Linked DNA regions of Homo sapiens. The protein of the gene in region 1 interacts with the protein of each later gene in a biochemical or structural test. Each region holds a gene or a part of one and is shown in the gene's direction. Other genes may lie near its edges.

Region 1 (2,835 bases):
AGCTGTGGGACTCAGACTGTCTTGGGACTGAGAGTCGTGGTGAGGAATGTCCGGGGAGAGTCAGTATCCAGGGTGGGCTGCAGCTGCTTCTTAGAGTGAAGTGAGTCTATCCAGGGTGGGCTGCAGTTGCTCCTTACAGCAAAGTGAGTGGTCAGCTCTGATTCAGGCCTCCTCTGAGGACCAGTGTCTTTTGGGCCAGTGACCAGGCAGGTGGTATTGAGGAGGGCCTTGGAAGGGCTCAGGAAACGAGGAAGCCTTGAGGGCAGGACCAGATATGCCAAGGGTGGGGGCGTCCACTCACCTCACTCAATGCTCCTGCACAGTGCTGGGGGTGGCATGTGGTGGCTGTAGTGGTTGAGTTAGATCCCGTTACAGAAATACCGATTATTACAATCTGACAGTGACCCCTCTATTCATTTAGGGCAAGGCATCCCTTTCAGCAGGGGGGGAACTGAAACTGCTGCTATACATTTTTTTATTGCTACATGTTGGAAACTCCAGATGTGATTCTTCTGAAAGTCTTGATTATTTTTACACAGTTTTTAATAGCAGATTTTAAGGGTCATTATGGAAATATAGTATAGCAGGAAAGCTTGATGGAATGAAAGACCTAAGTACATATTTTATTATAAACATATGTAACAGCTCTGCTAATTCCAATTTTCTACTTAGAAAGTTTTGTGCATTTGTCAAAAGGGTATTACCTTTAACCTCCCTGTAGTCTCCCTTTTTTGGATAGAGGGTAATATAAACTATGATGAACACCCTTCCTATATAAAGGCTATCTTAGCACCCCATGGGAGCAGAGTGGGATGAAAGAACAGGGTGTGTGGAGTGTTCATTCCCATCCCTTTGTCATCAGCAGGAATCAGGATCAGAAAAGTCCCCTCACTAAAGAAAGTCACCCCTTCTCCCCTCAAAAAGTACATAAGTAAAAATAAGAATCAAAGATTCTCGTAGCCCAGCTTAGGAGGAATGAATGTATCGATCAGTCTCCATGACTCAGTTTATTTCTGCTCTGACCAGGAAAAACAAGACAAGGCCGTTCTCCAAGCAGAAGTGCAGCACCTGAGACAGGACAACATGAGACTGCAGGAGGAGTCCCAGACCGCGACAGCTCAGCTGCGGAAATTCACAGAATGGTTTTTCACCACCATCGACAAAAAATCTTAGCCAATCCGCACCTCATCAAGGGACCACTGGGAAATGCCCCTTGTCCCTTTGAAGTCACAAACATGTGGTTTTTCTGTGTGCTTTCAACCAATCGTAGATGTTTTTGCTGTTCCATTCTGTGTAGCACCATTCACCACAGCAGGATAGGGAGCCTCGACTCTTTCTCGGTAACCACGGCAGAGAGCAGCGCCGATGTGAAGATGAATGAATGTAACTCCTGGTGTGAAGATGAATGTAAACCCTGGCGACAGTTGAGACCTTTTTCTTTTAGACTCTGCTAAAACAGTGCTCTGGCTTGGGCTTACCTCAAGAGGGAAGATAGTTGAGTTTTATTTCCTGTATATCAGGTGACCTGGTAGAGATGTAAAGCAATTTACCATAGTTTGGGCTTTAGTATTGTAAAATAAACATGAGAACAAATAATCAGACATATACTTTAATGTTAAAGGTGCTCTATTTTTTTGGATGTACAGTAGTTTTATTTCCACAGCCACATTACCATAGCAATAAGAAAGGAGGCATAGTACATAGTTGGAAAAGCTTTGTGGGGGGATTAAAAAAAAAAAAAAGCACTGTTGTGTTTAACACTAGTTCAGATGCAGTTACCTTAGAGACTTATTTATTTGCAGGAACAAATGGTGCCTGAATATTAACAGTGTTCTGATTAAAAACAAAAAAAAGATACATATGCCTTGTAAATGGCTCACCGAGTGGTCAGTAGTCACTTCAACTCTTAGTTCACTTTTGTATAGTTGCTCTGCTGGAAAGAAATGAGAGTGAATCTGCTTACTCACTAGAACTTCCCTGTGTGCTGTGAGCCAGCGGAACCACTTGTACAATGCCAGATTTGTTTATCTTTGTACAGAAGCTTTGATGAAGTGTCTTGTATTTAACACCCTTATTTAAGCTTATTTAACCTTAAATTGTTAATTTTATAAAATTTGGTTTGGCCTGCACTACGATGAGGGATGGAGGTAGCTGCAGGCTCAGAAGAGACTGAGCTTGCACAGATCAGACCGAGAAGCAGGGTGAGAGATTCTAACGACTGGATGCTGCTAGTAACACATTGTTTGTATTGCTTTACCATTTTTAACTGTTAGATTTGAGATGAACATACATTTTGCTTTTTTAATAAATGTTTAAAAGAAGTCCACATAAGAAATGGTGTTGTCAGGTGACTAGATTTTTTGTGATCTAACATGTCAACAGTCTGACTGTATGTGAATTTATTTCAGGTCATTTAGAACCTTGATTTGTATTAAATACTGTTCAGCTCCTTTCTCATAGAATCCCAGATCGATTTCAGGAAGGAGTACCTAGCAGTTTTTAATAGCTGCTGTGTGGCGGACACTATTCTCTGAACTTTTCATCCATCTCATTTAACCCCAATGGTATCTATCCTTCATAGGTAGGAGGTGGGGTTCCCATTTACAACCACATGAACTGTGGGTCAAGTGAAGTAATTTACGCAAGACTGCCTTTAAAAAAATAAAATAAAATAACACTTTGGTGTTGCCAGCACTTTGAGAGGCCAAGGCGGGTGGATCACCTGAGGTTAGGAGTTCAAGACCAGCCTGACCAACATGGAGAAACCCTGTCTCTACTAAAAGTACAAAATTAGCCGGGCATGGTGGCACATGCCTGTAATCCCAGCTACTCGGG
Region 2 (3,500 bases), on another chromosome or scaffold:
AATATAAAAGATTAGCCATGTGTCGTGGTGGGTGCTTGTAATCTCAGCTACTTGGGAGGCTGAGGCAGGAGAATCACTTGAACCCAGGAGGCAGAGGTTGCAGTGAGCCAAGATTGTGCCATTGCACTCCAGCCTGTGCAACGAGCGAAACTCCAACTCAAAAAAAAAAAAAAAAAAAAAAACGGAAAATTAGGTAATACTGCAGATTCATTAATATCACAGCAGCACTAAACTCAGTCTTCCTCTGTGCTGGGCTCAAGGGAACTGAAAGGGAAGTAACTTGCTATGTGGTTCAGTGTCATTTCATGCTGTGTCACTGCACCACTTAAAATCTTCACCCGGAGACTATGTCCCACACATGGGGAAATCAATCACCGTCATATTTTAAGTGCTTGCTGTGTGACAGCCACGATTACAATGACTGTTACTCTACCTCTTATTCTCACTGTAGTGTTCCCAGTGAAGCGGCGGAACCGGCACAGCCTAGTGGGGCCTCAGCAGCTAGGAGGACGGCCAGCCCCTGTCCGACGGAGCAACACGATGCCCCCCAACCTTGGCAATGCAGGGCTGCTGGGCCGAATGCTGGATGAGAAAACCCCTCCCTCACCCTCAGGTACGTTTCTATCTCGTGGAAGGTTGGGGCAGCTGTGGGGTCCCTGTGACCCTCTTCTGATCCCTACTCTTCCCCTCAAGGACAACCTGAGGAGCCGGGGATGGTGCGCCTGGTGTGTGGACACCATAATTGGATCGCTGTGGCCTATACCCAGTTTCTAGTCTGCTACAGGTGCTTGGGGAGGGAGTGGCAGGAGGTCCCAGCCCTGTTGATGGGAAGGGCATGCGGTGAGGGTTGGTGATGTCCCCTCGATCCTACAGGTTGAAGGAAGCCTCTGGCTGGCAGCTGGTGTTTTCCAGCCCCCGCCTGGACTGGCCCATCGAACGACTGGCGCTCACAGCCCGGGTGCATGGTGGGGCTTTGGGTGAACATGACAAGATGGTGGCAGCAGCCACCGGCAGCGAGATCCTGCTATGGGCTCTGCAGGCGGAAGGCGGTGGCTCCGAGATAGGTATGACCCCAAGCCTTTTCCAGAACCCTCTGTCCTTTAAATTCTACTGCCTGTTAAAATGACCCACCCCATAAAATCCTCAAACCCATAAGAATTCTCTGCTCTATTAGATCTGTTTGTGTCATTAGAATGCTCCAGCCCTTCAGAATTCTGTATCCTGTTAGAATTCCCTGGCTTCCTAGAAAAATCCACCCACATACAATTCTCCCTCCATCAGAATTCCCTGCCCTGTTAGATCTCTTGGTTTTGTTAGAATGCGCTATTCTGTGTGGCCATGAGAAATGTCTGACTTGGCCCGGTGCGGTGGCTCATGCTTGTAATCCCAGCACTTTGGGAGGCTGAGGCGGGCAGATCACTTGAGGTCAGGAGTTCGAGACCCCCTTGGCCAACAGGGTGAAACCCAGTCTTTATTTCAAAAATACAAAAAAATTAGCTGGGTGTGGTGGCACGTGCCTGTAATCCCAGCTACTCAGGAGGTTAAGGCAGGAGAATCACTGGAACCTGGGAGGCAGATGTTGCAGTGAGCTGAGATCGCACCACTGCATTCCAGCCTGAGCGACAGAGTGGACAGAGTGAGACACCATCTCAAAAAAAAAAAAAAAACAAAAAAAGAAATCTCTGACTTATGGCTGGGCACAGTAACTCACATCTGTAGTTCCAGCACTTTGGGAGGCCATGGCAGGAGGATTGCTTGAGGCCAGGAGTTCGAGGCTGCCGTGAGCTATGTAAGCCATGATTGCACCACTGCACTCCAGCCTGGACAACAGAGCAAGACCCTGTCTCAAAGCCACAGCAACAAATCTCGGACTTATTAATCTGTCCCCAAATAAATCTCAGCCCTCGTAAGAATCCCCTGCCACCAGTGGAGGTTTTTTTGCCTTATTGCAAATCTCAGTGCTGTTAGAATTCCAGACCGTTTTAGAATCCCATACCCCATCAGAAATCTTCTGGCCCATTTTATCTTCTCTAATTCCTGCTGGAATCTTCACTTTTTTTTTTTTTGAAATGGAGTCATTCTCTGTTGCCCAGATTGGAGTACAGTGGTATGATCTCGGCTCACTGCAACCTCTGCCTCCTGGGGTCACGCAATTCTCCTTCCTCAACCTCCCAAGTAGCTGGGGCTACAGTTGTGTGCTACCACACTCAGCTAATTTTTATATTTTTTAGTAGAGATGGAGTTTCATCATGTTGGCCAGGCTGGTCTCAAACTCCTGGCCTCAAATGATCCGCCCACCTGAGCCTCTCAAAGTGTTGGGATTACAGGTGTGAGCCACTGTGCCCAGCCCCTGATGGAATCTTCTATCCTTCAAGGATTCTGTGGTCCCACTGAACCCTCTGGTCCTTGGAGTTCTTCCTCCCACCTCTCCTCCTCCATGAGGCAGGGTTCCAGCTGAGCCCTTTTTGCCCACTGCAGGGGTCTTTCATCTGGGGGTGCCTGTGGAGGCCTTGTTCTTCGTCGGGAACCAGCTCATTGCTACAAGCCACACAGGGCGCATCGGGGTGTGGAATGCCGTCACCAAGCACTGGCAGGTCAGAGTTCTGGCCAGCCTGGCTGCCCCCTTCCCAGTTTTCCAGACTGTACAGACCCAGGAAGGGGTTCACGTCTGCCCCCACCCCCACCCCCTAAGCCTGGAGGAAGCCAGAGAACCAGCAGCTGGCCAGAGCCTGGGGATGTCTGTGATAAAGGCCTAAGGAGCACCAGGGAAGCCTTCCTGGAGGAGGTGCTGCAGAGCCCACATGAAGCATGAATGGGTTTGAAAAGGAGTAGGGAGGATTGTCTTGGGACTGGGTGAGAGAGCAGGTTAGGGGGGATGCTGTAGAAGACAAGAACTGGCTTGGCTCGGTGGCTCACACTTGTAATCCCAGCACTTTGGGAGGCTGAGGTGGGAGGATGGCTTTGGGAGAAAGACAGACAGAGGCAGAGAAAGAGACAGAGAGGCAGAAAACCAGGCAAATAGAAATAGAAAATCAGAAAGAGGTGACAGAGAAGGGTAGACAGAGTCAAACCAGACTGAACCACTGTGGCAGATGGGGGAACTCAGAGAGATAAATGGAGATGAATTAGAGTCATGTCAGAAGTACATAGTGGAGGCCGGGTGCAGTGACTCCCGCCCGTAATCCCAGCACTTTGGGAGGCCGAGGCAAGAGGATGGCTTGAGCCCAGGAGTTTGACGCCAGCCTGGGAAACATAATAAGACTCTGTCTCTACAAAAAATTTAAAAAATTAAAACTTTAAAAAGTACAGAGTCCAGGAGAGGCCAAGAGTCAGACAGACAGATGCATCAAAGGGAGGAAGGGAGGGAACAAGACAGGGACAAAGGCAGGCCTGGGGTGGACGGGGCTGGGGAGCAGTGGGTGGGTTCTGGAGGTGGAGGAGAGGGCCCATCCTCTGTGAGGGGTCACCACGGAAGGAAAGGAATGGAAGGGCTCCCGGCT

What was found. Proteins that work in one complex are often made in the same cells at the same time.
Region 2: the proteins of SIPA1L2 (region 1) and SHKBP1 interact in a test that uses a peptide from one of them, tested with the Homo sapiens proteins (one large-scale study listed by IntAct).

What each region holds. Positions count from the first base shown.
Region 1 is NC_000001.11:232,397,465-232,400,299, reverse strand, and holds the end of SIPA1L2 (signal-induced proliferation-associated 1-like protein 2), read left to right. Parts: intron 1-1,026; coding exon 1,027-1,173; 3' UTR 1,174-2,335; downstream 2,336-2,835.
Region 2 is NC_000019.10:40,579,873-40,583,372, forward strand, and holds part of SHKBP1 (SH3KBP1-binding protein 1), read left to right. Parts: intron 1-451; coding exon 452-613; intron 614-693; coding exon 694-784; intron 785-873; coding exon 874-1,064; intron 1,065-2,478; coding exon 2,479-2,594; intron 2,595-3,500.